2 separate regions of the Homo sapiens genome follow, and region 2 is linked to region 1. Evidence: fine-mapped expression QTL. A gene starts in region 1. The other region holds a variant in brackets. All regions are shown on one strand. Distances are from middle to middle.

Region 1 (15,930 bases):
ATCCACTGATGGACACTTAGGTTGATTCTTAACTTGCTACTATGAATAGTGCTGTGATAAACATACTAGAGCAGGTGTCTTCTTCATATAGTGATTTATTTTCCTTTGTAAACACCCAGTAGTGGGTTTGCTGAATTGAATGGCAATTCTATTTTTAATTCTTTGAGAAATCTCCATACTGTTTTCCATAGAGCTTGTACAAAATAAGACAATTTTAAAAACTATGTTTAAAGTTTAGGTTATAATTTAGTAAACTAAAAATGGTAACAACTTTTGGAAATTCTCGTGTGCAATCTGAGGGTTTTATAAAGCAAAAATTGGAAAGATTCACCATAAGTTCCTTGTAAGCCTTGCCTAACTTTAAAATGGAATTTAATTTATCAAAATATATAATGTGCAACAAAAACATACGTTATACTGTTAGGAGAAGCTTACTCCTTTCTCCTTTTGTTTCCAGGAGGGCCCTCTTCTTCCAGCAGGAAAAATAACTGAAACACAGTCACACACCCCATAACAATGTTTTGGTCAATGATAGACCACATGTATGGCAGTGGCCTCATAAGATTAAAGTGGAAGTTAAACATTCTTATCATCCAGTGGTGCTGTAGCCACTGTAATGTCATAGCTGCAATTACTTTATTTTTTTATAAATTTAGTTTAGCCTGTGTGTACAGTGTTTATAAATTCTACAATAGTAAACAATAATGTCTTAGGCCTTCACATTCACTTATCACTCCCTCACTAACTCACCCAGAGCAACTTCCAGTCCCGTAAGCTCCTGTGTCCTATACAGTGCTCTATACAGGTGTACCATTTTTTATATTTTATACCATATTTTTACTATATCTTTTATTTTTATTATATCTTTTGTATGTTTTTATATAATTTTATAATAAAAATACCATATTTTTATTATATCTTTTGTATGTTTAGATATGTTTAGACCACAGATATTTACCTTTGTGTTACTATTTCCTGCAGCCTTCAGCATAGTAACCTCCCGTACAGGTTTGGAGCCTAGAAGCAATAGGCTATTGACCATATAAACCATGTATATAGTAGGCTATACCATCTAGGTTTGCCTACCACTCTATGATGTTCACACTATGATGAAATCACTTAAGGATGTATTTCTCAGAAGATTTCCCTGTGTTAAGTGACACATGACTGTATATACTTCTAGACTAATCCAACACTCAGTTAGGTTTCTGTCACTTAGGAGAAATAGCTGAGCTTATCAGTGAGATGGAAAGGAGAGAAATAAGCACCCCAGGACAAGCCACCACTTCCTCCACCCACTTCTTTCTTTGATATTTCTGCCTTCAACATACACATTTTTTGCTCTAGTTCCCAGAGTAGGGCATAGGCTCTATAGGGCAGGGATGAAAAACTTTACCTAGGCTGGGTGCAGTGGCTCATGCCTGTAATCCCAACACTTTGGGAGGCCAAGGCCGGTGGATCGCTTGTATTCAGGACTTCAAGACCAGCCTGGGCATCATGGTGAAACCCCACCTCTACTAAAAATACAAAAAAATTAGCTGAGCATGGAGGCACACGCCTGTAATCCCAGCTACTCAGGAGACTAAGCCACGAGAATTGCTTGAACCTGGGGGCAGAGGTTGCAGTGAGGCAAGATTGTGCCTGGGTGACAGAGTGAGACTGTGTCAAGAAAGAAAGAAAAAGAAAGAAAAGAAAGAAAAGAAAGAAAGAGAGAGAGAAAGAAAGAAAAAAAGGAAGGAAGGAAGGAAGGAAGGAAGGAAGGAAGGAAGGAAGGAAGAAAGGAAGGAAGGAAGGAAGAGAGAGAGAGAGAAAACAAGAACACCAAGGTGATTAATGCCTAACTTTGTCCAAGACCTCGAGTAAAAAATATGTTGAGAATATAAATAGGATGATTCACATGGATTATCTAAATAGAAGTTTACTAAATTATAACTAGTTACTATCTGAAACCTCAAGACTTCAGGACAGTTGTCTACTACAAGTAAAGATGCACTGAAATACAACTTTACAAGTCCATTTACTTTCACTGCTAGAACTTTCCACTATAGACAAACTTGAACTAGGGTGCAAACATATTACAGGGAAAAACAATGCAATGCTGGGTAAAATAAAAACCTAAATGGCCATTCAGGAAATGGTTAAATAAGTTATTACAGACCCACACAATGGAATACTATGCAGCTTTAAAATGAATGAGATATGACTACAATACTACCATTGAAAAACACAAGATATGGGCCAGGCATGGTGACTCATGCTTGTAATCCCAGCAATTTGGGAGGCTAAGGTTGGAGAGTCGCTTGTGGTGAGTTCAAGACCATCCTGGATGAGACCTTGTCTCTAAAAAAATTTTTTTATTGCCAAACATTGTGGCACATGCCTATAGTTTAGATACTTGGGAGGTTGAGGCAGGAGAATCATTTCAGACAGGAGTTCGAGGCTGCAGTGAGCTATGATGACACTACTGTACTCTAGCCTGGGTGACAGAGCAAGATCCTGTCTCTAAAAAACAAAACAAAACAAAGAAAAAACAAGATATTTAAGTAGGAAAAAAAACCATTACAGAGCAGTAAGAATACTGTGATCCCAATTTTGTAGAAAACAAAATATATATACGTGTGTATACATGTGCACATTAAATTTGTAGAAAATCACCAGGAAGGGAATTTAGAAAAAGGGCAGAATGGGTAAAGCTCATTTTTTTCTTTTATACACTTCTATACTGTTTTAATTTATTGCAAACCTCTTATGCTACCTTATAATAAACTAGAAAAATATTATATATAATCCTTGCCTTTCATGCTAAATCATTTCAATAGACTTTATTTTTGTTTATATGTAGCTAGAGAGATGCAGAAAGCTCAACTGACCTGCTTAGAATAGGTATAGAAGTAGCTTGTGGATAAGGAGTTCTTTCAACATCAGAGGCTTGTAGCCCCAGTATGCTGCGTTCCTGCTTAGGCTGATACTGATCCCTTTCCATCTTCAACTCAGAATACTACATTTATTCAGCACCTTCTTGGTCCCTGGTGTTGGTAACAGGCTAGTTAGACTAGACTAGAGCAAGAAAAAATGTTGTCTTGGGTCATAATTTCCACCGGCATTTCCTAATTGCATTTTATCTACTATACCTAATTTATGTTCTACTGTAGTAACAGAAAGTGAATGATTAACTTGAAGATAAAAAAACATCTGATATGAATTCAACTTGACGATGCTAGGTTTTCCTTGATGAAATCAGGTTTCTCTCTGCCTAACAGCACCTGTCAAAGGTATAAAGGAGATCTAATTCTGCCTACAATATCCTGCTTTTGTGAGCTAAAGCTTTCTGTGTCCTCTCAGAAAAAGGAAAAGTCAAAATCCTGTGGAAGTGAAAGACATTGTTATATAAACCCAAATTGAGCAAAAAAGAAAATGTTAGCCAATTTTTTTCTTCTCTTTTCTTTTGAGATGGAATCTCACTCTGTCACCCAGGCCAGATTGCAGTGGCGTGATCTCGGCTCACTGCAACCTCCGCCTTCAGAGTTCAAGCAATTCTCATGTGTCAGCCTCCCAAGTAGCTGGGACTACAAGCATGTGCCATGCCACCACATGTGCCACAATGTTTGGAAACAGAGTCAAGCAAAGATTTTCATGCAAGGATGTAGTCTTGAGAAGTGAAAAAATGGAAATTACCTAAAAATTCAATATGAGGGAAATAGTTAAATCAATAACAATGAAATATACATGCTTCCATTTAAATATCTTGCTATTGTTCCTGGTGCAGTGGCTCACGCCTGTAATTCCAGCACTTTGGGAGGCCGAGGCCGGCAGATAACTTGAGGTCAGGAGTTCGAGACCAGCCTGGCCAACATAGTAAAACTCCATCTCTACTAAAAACACAAAAATTAGCCAGGCATGGTGGCACACACCTGTAGTCCCAGCTACGTGGCAGGCTGAGGCACAAGAATCACTTGAACCTGGGAGGCAGAGGTTGCAGTGAGCTGCTGTCAAGCCACTGCACTCCAGCCTGGGCAACAAAGCAAGATTCCATCTCAATAAATAAATAAATATCTTGCTATTGAAGACTTACTTGGAGAAATGCATACCATATTATTGGGAAAAATAGAATTCTAAACCTAACAGCATTCCAATTTTACTTTTTTTTTTTTTTTTGAGATGGAGTTTCGCTCTTGTTGCCCAGGCTGGAGTGCAATGGCACCATCTCAGCTCACTGCAACCTCTGCCTCCCGGGTTCAGCGATTCTCCTGCCTCAGCCTCCGAGTAATTGGGATTACACGCACGCACCACCTCGCCTGGCTAATTTTGTATTTTTAGTAGAGATGGGGTTTCTATATGTTGGTCAGGCTGATCTCGAACTCCCAACCTCAGGTGGCCGCCCACCTCGGCCTCCCAAAGTGCTGGGATTACAGGCATGAGCCACCGCGCCTGGCCCAATTTTACTTTTAATAAAAAATATTTGCCGGGGTGCCGAGGCTCACGCCTGTAATCCCAGCACTTTGGGAGGCCAAGGCAGGCGGAGCACAAGGTCAAGAGATCGAGACCATCCTGGCTAACACGGTGAAACCCCCGTCTCTACTAAAAATACAAAAACTTAGCCGGGTGTGGTGGTGGGTGCCTGTAGTCCCAGCTACTAGGGAGGCTGAGGCAGGAGAATGGCTTGAACCCGGGAGGCGGAGCTTGCAGTGAGCCAAGATCGCGCCACCGCACTCCAGCCTGGGTGACAGAGCAAGACCTCCATCTCAAAAAAAAATACATGCAGGGCCGGGTGCAGTGGCTCACGCCTGTAATCCCAGCACTTTGGGAGGCTGAGGCGGGCAGAGCACAAGGTCAAGAGTTCGAGACTAGCCTGGGCAAACATGGTGAAACCTTGTCTCTACTAAGAATACAAAAATTAGCCAGGCATGGTGGCATGTGCCTGTAATCCCAGCTACTCAGGAGGCTGAGGCAGAAGAATCGCTTGAACCTGGGAGGCAGAGGTTGCAGTGAGCCAAGATCGTGCCACTGTACTCCAGCCTGGGCTACAGAGCAAGACTCCGTCTCAAAAAAAAAAAAAAAAAAAATATGGATTATACATGCAAAAATGGACTGGAAGGAAGTTTGTAAGATTTTTAGCCATTTTTCTGAAAATAATGTTAATTATGAGTAATTAAAATTGTCTTCGTCTTTTAAATATTTTTTAATGAACATCTAAATTATCTTTGGTTACCATCTGGCATAGTATGAAGTAAAAAAGAAAACACCTGTATTTTTCGTTAAAAAAAAAAAAAAGCAAAAATATCATCATTTTAAAAACCATGCCTCAAAGTTCATGCCAAAAAGACATAGTTCACACCAAAAAACCAAAACCAAAAACAAAAAACAGTGGCCTTCTGACTAGAAAGAAAACTGGAGGCTAGGCGCGGGGCCTCCATGCCTGTAATCCTAGCACTTAGGGAGGCTGAGGCGGGCAGATCACTGGAGGTCCGAGTTCAAGACCAGCCTGGCCAACATGCCAAAACCCCATCTCTAGTAAAAATATGACAATGTCGTGGAAATAGCCATTGATTCTGGCATAAAAAAATAAAGAGGAAAAAGTAATTATAAAAATGATTTTTATGGCCAGGCCCGGTGGCTCACAGCACTTTGGGAGGTCAAGGGGGATGGATCATAAGGTCAGGAGTTCAAGACCAGCCTGGCCAACGTGGTAAAACCCCGTCTCTATTAAAAATACTGCTCAGGAGGCTGAGGCAGAGAATTGCTTGAACCTGGGAGGTGGAGGTTGCAGTGAGCCGAGATTGCGCCACTGTACTCCAGCCTGGGCGACAGAGCGAAACTCCATCTCAAAAAAAAAAAAAAAGAAAAAGATTTTTAATATTCTTTCACTGAAGGAAATCCATTTCCAATACAACAAAATAATTGTGTATATATATTTTTAAGTATATGATGTCTTTTTCTCAAAAGACACGCCACCACTTTCATCAGAATCTCAGACAGATTCATGTCTTCCAAAAGATTACAAGACCAATGTCCTAATGTTTTAGTTTGTGGTAAGAAAAATATAGTCTATCACCTTATTCCAGGGGTGTAGTTTTTGGCCAATGCATATTTATGCAACAGGATGAAAGTTCAAATAGCACACTTATGCAACAGGATGAAAGTTCAAATAGCACACTTATGCAACAGGATGAAAGTTCAAATACATAAAAATCTATTAAAAATCCTTCAAAGTGGACTAGGGTCCTACGAATCTGCTGAGAAGCCTAGTATCTGACCTATGCATGAATTGATAACTGATTCTGATTTTCTTACAGATATTCCTGAAAGAGGATAGAGCTTGGTGTTGAGAATAAACTGGGCAGTAATGGTGATGAGGTTACATCATGGCCTTACTAGGAAATGTTTTTGCTTTTTTTTTTTTTTTTAACTAAAAACATAGATTTTTTTTTTTTAGTTCATACTGTGCCAGATGTTGGAAACACAGTCGTAACCAAAGATAATTTAGATGTTCATTAAAAAATATTTAAAAGACGAAGACAATTTTAATTACTCATAATTAACATTATTTTCAGAAAAATGGCTAAAAATCTTATAAACTTCCTTCCAGTCCATTTTTGCATATGTAATACTTTTTTTTTTTTTTGATACTGAGTCTTGCTCTGTCGCCCAGGCTGGAGTGCAGCGGCACGATCTTGGCTCACTGAAACCTCTGCCTCCCGGGTTCACGCCATTCTCCTGCCTCAGCCTCCTGAGTAGCTGGGATTACAGGCACACGCCACCATGCCTGGCTAATTTTTGTATTCTTAGTAGAGACGAGGTTTCACCATGTTTTCCCAGGCTAGTCTCGAACTCTTGACCTTGTGCTCTGCCCGCCTCGGCCTCCCAAAGTGCTGGGATTACAGGCATGAGCCACCGTGCCCGGCCCTGCATGTATATATTTTATTAAAAGTAAAATTGGGCCGGGCACGGTGGCTTACGCCTGTAATCCCAGTACTTTGGGAGGCCGAGGCGGGCGGATCACCTGAGGTCGGGAGTTGGAGACCAGCCTGACCAACATATAGAAACCCCATCTCTACTAAAAATACAAAATTAGCCTAGCAAGGTAGTGCGTGCCTGTAATCCCAACTACTCGGGAGGCTGAGGCAGGAGAATCGCTTGAACCCAGGAGGCGGAGGTTGCAGTGAGCCAAGATGGCGCCACTGCACTCCAGCCTGGGCAACAAGAGCGAAACTCCATCTCAAAAAAAAAAAAAAAGTAAAATTGGAATGCTATTAGGTTTAGAATTCTACTTTTCCCAATAATATGGTATGCATTTCTCCAAGTAAGTCTTCAATAGCAAGATATTTATTTATTTATTGAGATGGAATCTCGCTCTGTTGCCCAGGCTGGAGTGCAGTGGCTTGACGTCAGCTCATTGCAACCTCTGCCTCCCAGGTTCAAGCGATTCTTGCGCCTCAACCTCCCAAGTAGCTGGGACTACAGGTGTACGCCACCATGCCTGGTTTGTATTTTTAGTAGAAATGGAGTTTCACCATGTTGGCCAGGCTGGTCTCAAACTCCTGACCTCAGGTTATCTGCCCGCCTCGGCCTCTCAAAGTGCTGGAATTACAGGCGTGAGCCACTGCGCCAGGACCAATAGCAAGATATTTAAACGGAAGCATTATATTTCATTGTTATTGATTTAACTATTTTCCTTATATTGGATTTTTAGGTAATTTCCATTTTTTCACTACTCAAGACTACATCCTTGCATGAAAATCTTTGCTTGACTCCGTTTCCTTAAATTCCTGAAAAAGGAATTACTGTCATAGAGCATAAACATTGTGAAGGTTTTTGGATCTTTTTTTCCAAATTGCCTTCCAGAAAGTTTGTAATAATTTACATTCCTGCCTTCTCATTCCTGCATCAACACTTTAATTTTTCCCAACATTTCAAAATTTTGTTAGAAAAGTTAAATCTTACTGTTTCATATTTTATTACCAATAAAGTTGATTATTTTTTCATATGTTTCTTGCCTGTCTGTAGTTCTTCTTTTGGAACGCTTAGTCCATACCATTAGTCTAATTTTTCTATCAGTGTGTTGGATTTTTTCTTTATTTGTAAGAGCTCTTTATGTATAAGGCTGTTGGCCGAATCTAGTGGCTCAGCCTGTAATCCCAAAACTTTAGGACTCAGAGGCAAGGCAGGAGGATCCCTTGAACCCAGGTGTTCGAGACCAGCGTAGGCAACAGAGTGAGACCCTATCTCAAAACCAACAAACAATTTATCTTATGTTGCAAATATTTTTCTTCATATGCCTTTAAACTTTATATATTTTTTTAATTCAATGAGGATTTACACTTTCATACAGGTAGATTGATTTATGTTCTCCTTTGTGGTTTATTCCCTCACTTATGTGTTTACAAAGGCCTTCCTTCACCCAAGTTAAGGTAAATATTCAGCATATTTCCTTGCTGTGGTTAAGAGATGTGAGAAGATACTATGAGAGACTCACTATGTTCACAACTTTTTCCAGTTAAATGAAGTCTTCCCACGTTTCCTAATCACTCACATTAAGCATATAGAATGGATTAATTTTAAATCTGAATATAAAACTAATTGCACAGCATGTTTCACTGCTCTTCTTACTGCCTACCTGGGGCACAGTCTCTTTGGCCTGAGTGGTCTCTTCAGTTTTTAACGAGTGGCTCCACAATTCCTTAGGAAGAGCTGCTCTCTTCTGTCTCCCTGGTGGTCGTAATTTCGCCCACACCTGCCCCGTCTTTGCTCTGCAGCTCCACACTCCCTCAGCCCCGCCGAGAGCTCCTGGCTCCCGTCTCCAGGTTACCCCAGGTCACCACAGCCACCTCTCTGCACCAGCGGCCCGCTCACGTACCCAGCTCCAGGAGCTCCTTCACGATGGCTTTTCCGATGCCCGTGGCCCCGCCGGTGACGATGGCCACTTGGCCCTGCAGCAAACCAGGCGCCAGGTAGCTCCTGCCCTTAGCCCAGGAGGCCATCCCTGCAGCGGGGTGCCAGAGCAGCTGAGCGCAGGCCCTTCTGGGTCTCAGGGACATTCGAGGCGGGCGGGCGGACAGGGCGGTGCTCGAGCCCACGTGACCACCAGAACCCCGCACCCTCCCCGGCCCGGCCCCGCCCCGCCCGCCGGCCGCGGCAAAGCCGCATCCTCCCGGAGCAGAACCGCTCCCCGCCGGCTGTCCGCAACCTCCGCCAGCGTCGGTCCCTGGGCAGGTGTGGGTGAGACTGCTCGTTCGTTTCTTTAAATTTCGATGCCATTGGGGAGGGTGGAAGGGAAATGCAAAAAAAAAAAAAGAAGAAGAAAGAAACAAGCAGGGTGTGCTCTATTTCAAAAATTCAATCCTCAGGGCTGAAGCTCTCACGATTAATTAAAATTAAATCTCCAGTGCAGCTGGAAAAAGAAAGGCTGCTGCTCGGCGCCCTCGCTGCGCCCGCCTGCCGGGGTCGGACGTCGGCGATGCTGTGGCTCCAGGTGCTGTGTGCCGCTGGCTGGGAAGGGGAGAAAGGGCAGGCTTAGCTGAGGGGGAGAAATGCGGCTTTCAGATCCTTTCATCCTTCGGGAGGGAGCCCGGGAAAGAGAGTGAAGGGGAAGAGGAGATGCGGTTGCAGTTTTCCACAGAACCAAGAGAATAAACGATTTGAAAAAATAAACTCAGGCCCACCTCCGTCTCACCTCCCACTCCCCACCCAAGAATCAAGGGGAAAGATCATCTTTACCAGGTTTGAGACCTGATCCATTTCAGCTGAGCTGCATAGCGAGTCCAGAAGAGGATCTTTCCTTGAAGGGTGCACGCTTCCTGCAAGATGCATCTGTAGGTGTTTGAGATCATGTCCTGTAGTTCATTCCTTGTGCAGGAGGGTGAGCCCGCTGAGGATGGGGAAAATTTCTCGTCTGTGTTATGGTGCCCAGTAACAGTGATTTATTATTCAGATCTGCTCCTTATTTTTCATCTTGCTTCCCGCTCTGAACCCACCAGAGTGAGATTACACCTGGACTGGCCTACTGAGACTTCACCCTAAGAACTTGGTCGAATGTGCCAGTTGCTGTGGTCTTAACAATCCAGATGGGATGCTATTTCTAAGGCTGTTGTCAGAGTGTTGCATTTTCCCCGGACAGGTATTAAAATAATATAAAGGCAAATAAATGCCATCATCCTTTTGTTGGACCTACCACCTAGGATTCACAAAGCCAATTGGAAATGGGTCTGGTTGACAGAGGAATCAGACCATCACTTCCTCCACCAGGTCCCACCCACCAGCGAGGCTGCAGTTCTTGTTGGACAGCTACACTTCCCTGTTGCTCCATCCTCTTGTCCTTCTCTGATCTCTTTTTAGAATCACTTCTCCCTCTATCTTTGTTGCTGACAGATTCAAATCTACACTCGTTAAAGAAAGGAATAAATCTCCTGGTTACCATTTGCTAGATAGTTTATCCAGGAATCACTTAACTCTACTACTTAAGTCAATTCTGTAGTTAGGACCAAATTTTTAAAATTACAACGCCATCACCTCCTTTAAAACAAAGTAAATTCAAACAGGAAAGCTCAAAGTGTTGTTGCAGAAACATATAACTCCTCTTGGTTTGATCCCAATGACAAGGTGTTTTTTTTTAAGGAAAAGAAATATTGATTCAGTTCTGAGGGGTATCTTATTCAAGAGAAGTCCAGACTTTCTTTCTTGTGGGTGGGGACACTTTAAATTCTTTTAAATGATAACTTTATTGAAGATATAACTTAACATGATTTATGCCCTGGTCTGGACCTATAGATTCTTAGAGGTGTGCCAGGGTGGGTCAGTGGGAAGCTGGCTGTGCTGCAGCTTCCGTGTGGCTGCTGAGCGGACTGAGAGTGGGATTCTGATGTCTTCCAGTGAAACAGGGACTGGGGCCTGCAAACCGGTTATGCCTACTGAGGATGACAAGGTGCCATTCCTCAGCTGCAAGGAAGTTGCAGGATGAACAGTCAGAAGGCGATTTTTCATGATCCAGGCAGAACCTGCAATTAAGAGAGCTTTGGGGTCTCTTCAAGCGATCTTTTGTTTAAAATTAGGAGGCATGATCTCTTTGCCTCTGCCTCTGACCTCTGTCAGGGTTTGAAAGTCCACTAATCCGCTAAGTTCCAGGCCAAAAGGCCTGGAAGCAGAGCAATAGATCTGCTGCTTGGAAGCTCTTTGTTTTGAAATTTTAGTTCTGCCTCTGGTTGAGGCATCTCTTCCGAAGGCAACCACGCCATGCTGCACTGACCACTCCTTTGGTTGAATCAAATGCTGCTCTTCCCTGTGCTCTGCGTCACTGCCCTCTTTGTCCTGGGGAAAAAGGCATTCCTGTGGCCAAGGTCCTCCCACACCCCCGAACCTCTCCCCACAGCTCTGTCATACCCCATTAGCAATGACTGCCTTCAGCTTCCCACCCCTCCCCCACCCCATCTGCCTGGTAACTTTATTTTCTCCCCTCTGCAAAGCAGCTGCTAGCTCAGACTGACAGGGGCTTGTGGGATTCTCGACATTTAGACTCCCAGAATCTCAGTGCTGAGAGAATGTCAGTGAAGCATCTGGTCCTGCCCCTACCTTGAAGCAAAACTACCTAGCAATTGTGCCATAACAAGGCATATAAAGGAGCTTATTGATGTCTTTTTATTAAACTTCTCCTTAGTCTCAGGCTTTCACAAAAAATAAGCTACTCCTGAGTTGCTACCACTTCACCCAGTCACTTAAAAAGATTTATCGAGCATCTATTTGTTGGCCTACTTCTATGGTACCACTTCATAGGGCTTGAAGTCTAGTAGAAGAGCTATGCAATAAATAAGTAAAAGAAAAATAAATAATGACAAATGTTGGTAAGCCTTACACAGGAAACAAGCTGTTGTGATAAAGAATAATGAGAGGCAGAGCAGGGAGTCAAGTTTTTAGTTCGGGTGTCAAGAAGGGCTCAGAGGAGGAAACATTTGAACAAGGACTCAAAAAAACAAAAACGGGCACAGGAAGAGGCGGGGTGGAGCAGCAGAGCAGCAAGATAGACAGCAGTTAAGAAGACCTCAAGCATTTGGAAGCATTTGGTGCTCTTGAGGAAGAAATACACAGCCAGTGTGATTGGAGCATAGTACCCCTACTATGGTGGTACAGATGGGGTGGCAGGATGGGGAGGTCCTTAGGCCACATGGACTTCCACATGTATAACAGTAGGAAGTTACAGGAGGATTTTAAGCAGAAAACAGCCTGATTTTCTTTTTTATTTTTATTTATTTATTTGACATGGAGTCTGGCTCTGTATCCCAGGCTGGAGTGCAGTGGCAGCGATCTCGGCTCACTGCAGCCTCTGCCTCCCAGGTTCAAACAATTCTCCTGCCTCAGCCTTCCGAGAAGCTGAGACGACAGGTGCGCGCTGCCACGCCTGACCATCTGATTTTCTTTATGTTTTAAAAAGATGTTTCTGGCTGGGTGGCTCATGCCTGGAATCCCAGCACTTTGGGAGGTGAAACCCCATCTCTACTAAAAATACAAAAATTAGCCGGGTGTGGTGGCACACGCCTGTAATCTCATCTACTCGGTAGGAGAATCAGGTGGGGGAGGTGGGGGTTGCAGGAAGCTGAGATTGTGCCACTGCAGTCCAGCCTGGGTGACAGAGTGAGACTCTGTCTCAAAAAATTAAAAAAATTAAGTAAAAGATGTTGCTTACTGCTGAGTGAGGAATTGATTGGAAGGCAGCAAGAGTGGAAGCTGGAAGATAGGAGCATTTTTTTTAGAACCACAGTTAAGAGACAGTGGCCTCCTAGACCAGAGGGGAAGCAGTGGAGATGGGAAAGTTGGGTGGATGAATTTAAGAATTATCTGGGCCGGGAGCAGTGGCTCACGCCTGTAATCCCAGCACTTTGGGAGGCCAAGGCGGGCGGATCACCTGAGGTTGGGAGTTCGAGACCAGCCTGACCAACATGGAGAAACCCCTTCTCTACTAAAAAATACAAAATTAACTGGGCATGGTTGTGCATGCCTGTAATCCCAGCTTCTCAGAAGGCTGAGGCAGGAGAATCGCTTAAACCCAGGAGGCAGAAGTTGTGGTGAGCTGAGATCACGCCATTGCACTCCAGCCAAGGCAACAAGAGTGAAACTCCATCTCAAAAAAAAAAAACAAAAACAAAAAAAGAATTATCTGGATAATTTTTTTCAAGAGTGGCTTAAAAGCAGTTATTCTAAGCACGAGTTCCAGAGTATGAGCATGTTCTTAAAAACCTGTTTTCCCTCCTACAATGACCAAGAGTACAGAGCTAATGGTTGATTGAAGCTAACACTCTGTAATATCACATTTGTAAGAATCTTTTTTTTTTTCTGAGGCAGAGTCTCACTCTGTTGCCCCGGCTGGAGTGCGGTGGTGTGATCTTGGCTCACTGCAACCTCTGCCTCCCGGGTTCAAGCGATTCTCCTACCTCAGCCTCCGGAGTAGCTGAGATTACAGGTGTGTGCCACCATGCCTGGCTAATTTTTGTATTTTTAGTAGAGGGGGTTTCACCATGTTGGCCAAGTTGGTCTCAAACTCCTGATCTCAAGTGATCCACCTGCCTCGGCCTCCCTAAGTGCTGGAATTACAGGCATGAGCCACCGTGACCAGCCTGTTAATAATCTTTAGACTGGAAGTGGAAGTGGAAGATGGGCACAGCTTAACTGCCAGAGAAAAGAACAAAGTCCTCTCTCTTCTCTCAAGTCTATTGATTAAAGCCTTGGAAATTGGGTAAAATTTTCTTTTAACCTCTCTCTTGTGAAATCTAAAAGGAAGGAGAAATGTTTAGAACCTGCTTCTCAGATCAAATACTTACAGCATAATAAAGTATACAAAAATGGGGAAGAGAATCAAGCCTTTCTTTCTTAACAGTTGTTTATGTCATATTTCTGGTAAGACATTTTCTCTTCTGTGTCCTATGAAGTCAACAAGTACATACTGACTTTGTACTACATGTCCAGCCCTGGGGTTTTCCCATTGGTGGTTAAGAAGAAGAGTAAGACAGTTCCTAAACTCTAGAAGTTTGTTATCTACCTAGAAAGATGAATGAAAACTCATGATGCCATCTATAATCTATACAATGATATGAAATGCTGCATAATTAAGTATTAAGTGTATGGTTCAGATGGCAAATGCTATTAAATTACAAATAGAAGGAGGCAAAAGAAAGGGAATAGAAACTAATATTTATGAAGTGTCAGTCACATATTAGGCATTTTATACTGGGCCATTCATTGAATTCTCACCACACACCTGCAACACAGGGTTAGGGTGGGAGGAGAGGACGTGGGGGCTGGGGTAGTCACAGAAGGGGACGTGAGCGAATGAGTCTGTCTTGAGCCAGGCTTGAAAGATGTGGAGAAGCGTGACAAAGATGAAGAAACCAACATAAGCACATGTGTTGAGTAGTCACGTTGCAGGAAAGGGAAGGGGAAAATTGCTACTGAATCCTAGGGTGGGGTGCAAATACGGAGAGCCTCAAACACCAGACAGGCCTTCAGATATATTTTAGTCAGTAATGGCAAGACAAAATAAAAATATTGTTTTGTTTTGTTTATTAATCACCATTAATATGGTAAAAAATGGTAGAGGAATGTCTTCCATTTTAGAATGTCTTCCAGTTTAGAGGAAGTAGTATGAAGGCTGTATTCTGGCATATGGTGGTAGTAGAAATTCAAATGAACAAATTAACAAAAAGATTTCATAGGAATGACTAGCAGGACTTAGAGACTAATTATTATTAGGTATATGGAAATATGTCCTTAATATAGGAAATGGGTTCATCAAAGAACATTCTAGAAGTTTATAGATCTTTGCATAAATGTTGGCGGGTAGTATGGCACAATGAAAATAACATGGGCTTTGAAATTAGCAAACCTGGGTGTCAGTTCCAGTCCCACCACTATACTAGCTATGTAAGCTTGAGCAAATTTCTCCTCTAAATGGGAATAATAAAGGTACCTACTTCACTGGTTTGCTGTGAATATTGAACAATACGATTATTGTAAAGTACTTAGAGCAGCACTTGGCACACAATAAACATCCAATAAGTTTCTGTTGTTACTATTATTCAGTCCAAGTGTCCTCTTCTGCAAAATAATACTTGCTTCATAAAATTGTTGTACCTAGGCTGGTATGGTGGCTCACACCTGTAATCCCAGCACTTTGGGAGGCCGAGGCAGATGGATCACTTGAGGTCAGGAGTTGGAGACTAGCCTGGCCAACATGGTGAAACCCTGTCTGTACTAAAAGTACAAAAATTAATTGCACATGGTGGTGTATGCCTGTGGTCCCAGCTACTCAGGAGGCAGAGGCACGAAAATCGCTTGAACCTGGAGGCTGAGGTTGCAGTGAGCTGACATTGCACAACTGCACTCCAGCCTGGGTGACCAAGCGAGACTCTGTCTCAAAAAAAAAAAAAACAAACAGGCCGGGTGCAGTGGCTCACGCCTGTAATCCCAGCACTTTGGGAGACCGAGGCGGGCAGATCACAAGGTCAGGAGATCGAGACCATCCTGGCTAACACGGTGAAACCCCGTCTCTACTAAAAAAGAAATACAAAAAATTAGCCGGGCGTGGTGGTGGGCGCCTGTAGTCCCAGCTACTCAAGAGGCTGAGGCAGGAGAATGGCGTGAACCCGGGAGGCGGAGCTTGCAGTGGGCTGAGATCACGCCACTACACTCCAGCTTGGGCGACAGAGCGAGACTCCGTCTCAAAACAAACAAACAAACAGACAAAAATTGTTGTACCTAGAACAACTATGCAATATATAGCACATAGTGTTGCTTAATAAATATTTACTGAAGCTGGGCACAGTTGCACATGACTGTAGTCCCAGCTACTCAGGAGGCTGAGGTGAGAGGATTGCTTGAGCCTAGGAGTTCAAGTCAAGCCTGGGCAACATAGAAAGACCCCATCTCTAAAAATAAATGAATACGTAAATA
Region 2 (8,000 bases), 76 kb after region 1:
TCTAATTATTATCTTTCCTTCCAGAAGCCAGGCTCTTGGAAGAATAGTCTATTCTGCAACCTTTCTCAGCTCTCATTCTCACCAGCTTTTGCCCCCACCACATCCTTGAAACTCATCTTTCAAAAGACACTAACTGCTAAATTCACTTCGGCTTTGTGGTTCTTTGCTTTCTTGACCTCTTTGAAGCACTTGACACTGTCAGTTATTCCTGCTTTCTTGAGACTCATGTATCTGTCTTAACTTCAGCTTCTCCAAATTTTTCTTTTTCAATCTTTGGCAGCTCCCTCTCAGATTCCTGTGGGGGCTGCTTTTGTGTGTTTTTGTGTTGATATTCTGTAGAATTTGTCCTCAGAAACAGCAAACATTTATTGAACCTTATGCTGAAGATAATGGGAAGCCATTAAAGCAAGGGTTTTTAATCAGGGTTCCAAAGATTGATATCAAGGAATCTGTGAACTACCTGAAATTACATTCAGACTTCAAAACTTAATATGTTAAGTGCTTTACATGATGCTAAGTGCTTTACACACATTATCTGTTTGGACCCACGTTGCCATCCTATGAAGTAGATTCTTCTGTTGACCCCCAACTTAAAGCTCAGGAGACTCAGGATTAGAGAAGATGAGAAACTTGCCCAAGATTGTAGTTGGTAGGTGTTGGAGTAAGGATTTAAGTGTAGGCAGTCTGACTCCAGAGCTTGTACTTCAAACTGTAATGCCACTTTGCCTTAGCAATGCATGTCCCAAGACCTCTTTTTTATTTCAGAGCCTCAAAAACTACTAAATACCTATCTTCAGCTCGGATTTCTATCCCATCAACTAAATAGCTTAGGTGCCTGTAGGCCCCTCCAGTTCAGTAAGCCAGAAATGGCTTTGTTATCTGCTTTCTTCTTCCTGCTCCTTTCCAACCCCTCTTCATGCTATTATTCTCTATTTCAGTGAATGACACCTAATTTCTTGGGAGTCTTCCTTTTCTTTTACATTCTATATGTAATTGGTTTACCAAGTTGTATTATATTTACCTCAAATCTAACGCTTTCACTTAAGGTTAGTCTGGTGGCTAATGGCATTGATTTTGGGGTCGAATTTGGAGCTAAACTCAAGCATTTCCCCTTAAAAGCAGTTGAAATTGGCAAGTTGCTCAGTGTCAAGTGGCAATAACAAATGCCTGCCTTCCAGGAGGTTGGTTAGGAGAATGGGTGAGTACAGGATTAGTTCTTTCCCTTTACTGTGTGCTTTAAACAAGGGATCAAACTTTCTTCAGGCTTAGTTTGCTCATCTGTAAAAGGATGCTGATAATAGCTAACTCATAGGGTTGTTGCAAAATTTAACTGAGATAATTTAAATGTGTGTAACATAGTGACTAGCACATGGTAAGCATTAAAAAGAAACGTAAGCTCTTAATAGCATCGCCCACTGCCACTGCTTTTATGTAGGCCTTCTCATTTTAGCCTGCCTCACTGACATAAGCTCTTCACTAATTTCCCTAATTTGTCTTACCCCTTTCCAATTCATGCTGCTACCTGAGTGAGTTTAAAAAACAAACCTGATCCCATCACTGTCTTGCTTAAAATTCTTAAAAGTAGTGATTCTTAATCATGTGTGAAAGACAGAGAGTGCAGTGAACTCACTTGATACAAAATCTATGAACTGTCTTCCCAGAAAAATGCTTTAACATACTAAGTTTTGAAGTTTGGATATAATTTCTGGTAGTTCACAGATTCCTTGATGTCATCTTTGGACCCCCAATTAAAAAACGCTTGCTCTAATGGCCTCCCATTATCCCCAGCATAAGGTCAAACTCTTTTACACAGATAAGAGAATCCAGATAAGCAGAAAGAAAAGAGGCATCTATTCATAATCCAACTATCTAGAGAAAACCATTTTCTTTTTTTAAAGTAAATAAAAATGAACTTATTAAAAAAAACCATTTATCATTTCACAACACATCAATAACCAAGTAGAAAATAAAAAAATATATAAAAGCCTGGGCAACATAGTGAGACCTCATCTCTACAAAAAATATAAAAATTAGCTAGGCATGATGGCACACACCTGTAGTCCCAGCTACTCTGGAGGCTGAGGCAGGAGGATCATTTGAGCCCAGGGTTCAAGGTGGCAGTGAGCCATTATTACACCTGTGAATAGCCACTGCACTCCAGCTTGGGCAACATAGTGAGACTCCCATCTCAAAAAAAAAAAAAAAAAAAGACAAGGAACTAATAATTAGGATATACAAGGACCTCTTGGCAAATCAAAAAATAATTTTTCAATTTTTCCATGGAAAAATGGTCAAAGATTATAAAAAAGCAAATCACAGGAGCAGAAACTCAGCTGGCTTACAAGTGTATGAAGAGATCTTCAATCTCAATTAGTAATCAGAAATGTAAATCAAAGCAAAAAAAAACATTGGCAAATATTTTTAAACATTAGATGATACCAGTTGTTGGTGAGAATATGGGAGAAACAGGAACTTCTGTGTACTGCTAAGGGGGAATGTAAACTGTTACAGTAGGACATTAGAAGCAACCAGTGTACTCGTCACTAGGGGAAAATGGTCTGTAAACATGGTAGATCCATATCATGGATTATGCTGCAAGTAACAGCCACATGGACAGATCTCTAAGGTCACCACTGAAGGAAAATTAAGAAAAAGAATAAGATCTATAATAGCCTATATCATCTTGTACTTAAAAAGCACATACATAAAGCAGTACTGTGTAACTTAATAAAAATATATACACATCTAAGATGTATCTGATATATCGGTGGGTACAAGAGGGTAAGTGGGGTGCAGAGGGAGTGGGAAAATAACTATGAAGGGGAAAGGTACTAAAATACAACGAGAAGGGCCTGGCACAGCCCATATTTGATAATGTGCTAAGAAGTCATTAGAAATTTTGAATGACTGAATTCCCTATACCTGAGGTCCCCCTTTAAAAAGCTCACCCTTCTTATAGACGAAGAAGCGAAGACACTAAGTTACAATGATATAAATTAAGCTACCAATGACAAAGTGCTCAGTCAACCTTCTGCCTTGTGTTGATAACACTAATCTGCCCTAGTTATATCTAAAGAAAAATATACTTTCATACAGATTTCACAGCTTTTCAACATCCATATATCTGGAAAGATAAGAACATTTGTATATCCTTCCATATGAGTCCTTGTGATTCGTTGAGGCCATAGGTTAAGTTTCCTTTCAGTCATTCCAAGGAGAATCAGCATGACCAAGCAAAGCAGGTTCCAAAGGCAGGAAGCAGAAGCAATATGATGCTGTGGAGGTACCTTTCTGAAACAGTCTCTTCTGCTGTTGTGGGGTCTTTGGGCAACCCTTCAATTTAAGTGCTTGGCAACAAGTCTGCTGAGATAGGCTGACCTTGTAGCTTTTGTAGTCTCTATCGTACAGCACTGGTCAGATCTACATAAGCCTCATCGATGCTGACGCATTCAATCACAGCAAAACAAGACTTCCTCCATCACTTCAACACTGGCTTCCCGGTACTTGGTGAGGTTAGCTTTCCCATGGTACTCACGAACTTGTGCCAGTAGAAGACCTGGACTTAACTTCTTTGCATCATCTGCCTACATATAGTGACCCCAAATGCAAGAGCTTCATAACTCACTGCAATTATTCTACCACCTTCCATGATTTGTACTACACAGCTGCACAAGATTTATTCCTCAAATGAGGATTTTGCCGCTGCTCCATTGGAACAAAGTCTATGTCCATGAGAGTAACCACACAATCCTGTCCAGTAGCCATTTTTCAAGGTAACAGACACCTGGCCAGACTGCCAGCAGTGGGTGCCGCAAATGCTGGGCTCGGTGCCCACTGGAAGGAAAATGGAAGAAGGGCTTTTGAATATCTTTTCGCCTTTCTGGGGAGAGTTTCGAGAGATTTATTCCCCGTGATGACAGAGGAACAGAGAAGGGGTCGTGAAGGATCCTGCCCAGGCGACCGTCCCCACAGTTCAGCAGGGATCAGCCGAGAGCAGTGTGCCCAGCAACAAAGCCACCAGACTGAGGACAGACAGCACGCACGCTGCCTAGAGAAAACCATTTTCTTTCCTCACGTTTTTTAATGCTCCTAATTAATGTGTTTTCTAGCTCCTTCTCTCACTACGTCCCAGCTTTTGCACCTTATGCTTTAACCCAATACAACTATTTTCTTTTTTTTT[T/C]GTTTTTTTTTTGTTGTTGTTTTTTGAGACGGAGTGTCACTCTGTCACCCAGGCTGGAGTGCAGTGGCGCCATTGTGGCTCACTGCAAGCTCTGCCTCCCGGGTTCACGCCATTCTCCTGCCTCAGCCTTTCGAGTAGCTGGGACTACAGGTGCCCGCCACCATGCCCGGCTAATGTTTTGTACTTTTAATAGAGGTGGGGTTTCACCGTGTTAGCCAGGATGATCTCGATCTCCTGACCTCGTGATCCGCCTGCCTCAGCCTCCCGAAGTGCTGGGATTACAGGCATGAGCCACCACGCCCGGCCAATACAACTATTTTCTATCCTCTGAAAGAGATAGGCCTATCACAGTATTTTGTTAATTGTCTATATGTATACTTCAATTTTTATTTGGCTGAAGGTGTTGATGGTATATTAATTTTTGTATATTGAGAGTTTAGAGTCTAGCTTAGTGGCTGATATATAGTACATATTCAGTAAATATTAGGCTAAATAAGTGAATTGCAAAATTCATACATGTTTGTGAAAGAAAATAAGAAAGGAGAAAGAACAAATTACCCATGGTCTCATCATCCAGATGCACCAACTGCTGACATTTATATGTCTACTGTGATCTTGTGTGTATAAATTTCTACTTTCTAGAGCTTAGCGCCTTCATAGATAATTTAGGGAAGAGAGTCATTACCCTTTCCCACTTCACATAGAGATTATGAATTTAGTGTATGCAAAATTCCTAATAATGCTGTTAAATGATTTGGCCTGGAGAATATTAACCATACTAAATTTTACTGTGTTGTGCATATGACTGGGGCTACTTTTACTTGCCTGGTACGGGAAAATTGTGTATGTGTCTGTTTACCCTTCTTTCCCTAGAACCTCATTTTGGAGGGTTGAAGAAATTCTTCATGTGATTCAACTTCATATTCCCCCACAACTTAGCTTTTTATGTGTAATCCTTCTTAATACTACTATATAAGCTAATCTGTATTTGTGGAAGAGAATAGTTGATATACTGATGGTAGTTTTCATCATAGTGCTTTCCTAAGGAGCAGACTGAAGCTCAGAGAGGTTTGTAGCTTACTAGACTCTAAACTCTAGATAGATAAAAATTAGTACACAGTGAACGCCATCAAGAAGGTGTAAGATTTCAGGGCTAGTCAGTGGCAAAATCGAGACTAGAATCCAGGTCTTTTGACTCCAACTCTTCAGTAGTTTAATGTTGTTGGCTTGTCTCTTGGGAAGAACTGGCAAAGGTTAATTGAAATGACTGGCTCTGACCTTTTTTTTTAAAACAGACTCAACTTCTAATGGAATTTCATTCTACCTTGGATTTCTCCTTTTTTTCTTTCATTTTTCCACGAAGGCTGTGTGTTTATTTTTTATTCTACTTGCAAGAAAAGAGTTCTGGGTGACTTACCCCTTGTAATGTTTCCTGGTTCCCACCCTTCTGTCTTCTACTTTGCTCTTGTCTACTTCTCAAAGGGAAAACATTTAGTGGTGAATGGGAAAGATGCCAAATAGTGAAAATTTTAATTCATGGATGTATGGCTGTGATGATTACTTTAGTTCTTTTACCTACCTCTAAGAGGAAATTCATTATTGAAATTGAGGAAGCCCATATATGTTTTATTTTCTCTTGGCTTCATTTTATTTTTAAAATTTATTTTTGCTTCATTTTTAAAATAACTTCATTTTCAAGCCTCATTGTCTGAAGGTTGAGGCTTTGAGCAAAAAAACAACACATTTAGAAATTCTAGTCCTGAAAATTGCTGAGAAATTTTAACTGTTCTCATAATAAAATAAGTAAATGAAATAATGCATATGATAATTAGCTTAATTTAGCTATTTCACAATAAATGCATATTTTAAAACATTTTGTACATGATAATATATACAATTTTTATGTTAAAATAAATGAATTTTTAAAATTTCTAGATCTTGGTTACTAATTCTCTTATCATTTAGCCATTTCTGATGGCTGCTTTTGCCCTAGATTGCATTTCTCTCTGGGAGAAAAAAATCTTAATTTCTTTATGTTCAGCAGCTTAAGGGAGATTACAGGCAGAGTCTTTGGATTTGATTTTCTTCTCTTTTGCAATTAACTTGACCTCCTCTTGACTTTAAGACAGGCTGTTAAAGCCAGCATGTTGCTTGAGGCAAGATGTTTGATATACTTTTCCTTAGCACACAGATGCTACTGGACTGTTAGCATATTGCACAAAACAGAATTAGGTTTATAAAAGAACAAATTAAAAAGTTTTCGGGGAAGTTTTTTTTTTATAGTTTACGACTTCTTTAAGAGGGAAAGCTCTTGCATAGTTAATTAAGGATTGTCTAGTAAGTTTTGACAGTTGTAAACAGAGGCTTATAAAGCTCTAACATACATGATAGAGAAAACGGGTTGTTAGACACAAAGGTCTTCTGTGTACATGGAAAGCTAATAGCTGTCAATTCTGAGACAGGAACTAGAAAATAATATCTGAAGAGTAAATGGATTTCTTACTTAAATGTTAAATTTCCATTATCTGTGCTTGCAGTTTCATCTTTTCCAAGGACCTTATGATGTGATTGCTTAATTCTGATTCTCATACTGCTGTGAAACAAAGCCAGGGCTGCCTCAAGTTAGGCCCTTAGGAGCCCGGTGGCTAGGAAAGGGAGGCAGCTTGTTTGTAGAAGGACTACATGTAGCTATTGTTTTTCTTTTCTTTTTCTTCTTCATTATTTTTCTTTTCTTCTTCTTCTTTTTTCTTTTTTTTTTTTGGTGCTTGGAAAATAAGTTTCACAATAGCAATCTGGTTTTGTATTGTTTGTTCTAAGAGAAATTTTTTTTTTCTTTTCTAGCCATGAAGATGGACCTACAGCTAAAAAATTAAAGACTGAGCAAGGGGGAGCCCACTTCAGCGTCTCCAGTCTGGCTGAAGGCAGTGTCACCTCTGTAAGCTAAGCTTTTCAAGTGCGCTTCCCCCTTTGCAGGAAGGTTGGGGCTTGAGGGAGAGTGCATCAATTTTTGTTAGTCCGTTCTTACCACTTTCAAGTTAAGATCATGATCACTTTCTCTGGTCCTTGCTCTATAGAAGCCAAAAAGACCCATTCCATACTTCTTTAAGTAATTATTATCATGAATTGCCTACAGAATTATCTATATGATATAAGGTATATAGAGCTCTTTATAGAACGTGGAACATCTCAGTGTTGAGATTTTGCTGTTGGCATTATTTTGCAGCTTTTCAACTAGTCAAAATGATAGGATAAGTGGGGGTTAGTGATACGAGCCTTAATCTTCAAGTACACACAATTTAAGTTAGTATAACTTTCCTATTTTCTAACATGCAACTTTAGAACAGGATTCACAAGTTTAGGATTTCCCCAAGAATGTATCCTTTGATACATGAGATTTTTATTGAATGAGAAATTTTTTGGAACTTGAAAATACTACCTTAATTAATTAATTAATTAATTAATTAATTTTTATATCTTGGTCAGCCAGGAGGAAGAATATTTTATTTAATTTTAGAGATAGGTTGTCACTGTCACCCACGCCGGAGTACAGTAGTGTGATTTTAGCTCACTGCAGCCTTGAAATCCTGAGCTCAAGTGGTCCTCCTGCCTCAGCCTCCTGTGTAGCTAGGACTAAGGGTACATGCCACCATACCCGGCTATTTTTCATAGAGGTGGGGTCTCAGTATGTTACTCCTGGGCTCAAGCAATCCTCCCGCTTCAGCCTCCCGAAGCACTGGGATTATAGTCATGAGTCACTGCACCCAGCCAAATAGTGCCTTGTTCTAAGCAGCATTAGTGTGAATCAACAAATCTTAAAAAT

Evidence for each region. PIP is the estimated chance that this variant, and not a neighbour inherited with it, causes the effect. A credible set is the group of variants that fine-mapping cannot tell apart.
Region 2: its variant is the best candidate, but not a certain one, in a credible set for the expression of TMEM169 in whole blood (TOPMed, PIP 0.66).

What each region holds. Positions count from the first base shown.
Region 1 is chr2:216,072,764-216,088,693 of GRCh38, forward strand. It overlaps TMEM169 (transmembrane protein 169), which reads left to right and starts at 9,156. Exons shown (of 3, transcript NM_001142311.2): 1 at 9,156-9,216. PECR (peroxisomal trans-2-enoyl-CoA reductase) reads right to left here and starts at 9,046. Exons shown (of 8, transcript NM_018441.6): 1 at 8,855-9,046. The coding sequence starts at 8,978. RefSeq lists enhancers at 8,648-8,727, 8,758-8,807, 11,932-12,001 and a silencer at 8,998-9,257.
Region 2 is chr2:216,153,047-216,161,046 of GRCh38, forward strand. It overlaps XRCC5 (X-ray repair cross complementing 5), which reads left to right. Exons shown (of 21, transcript NM_021141.4): 15 at 7,022-7,115. It also overlaps the pseudogene POLHP1. Among named protein-coding and RNA genes, the nearest start is that of XRCC5, 48 kb to the left of the region's middle. RefSeq lists an enhancer at 3,191-4,390. The variant T/C (reference allele first, on the strand shown) is at 4,181.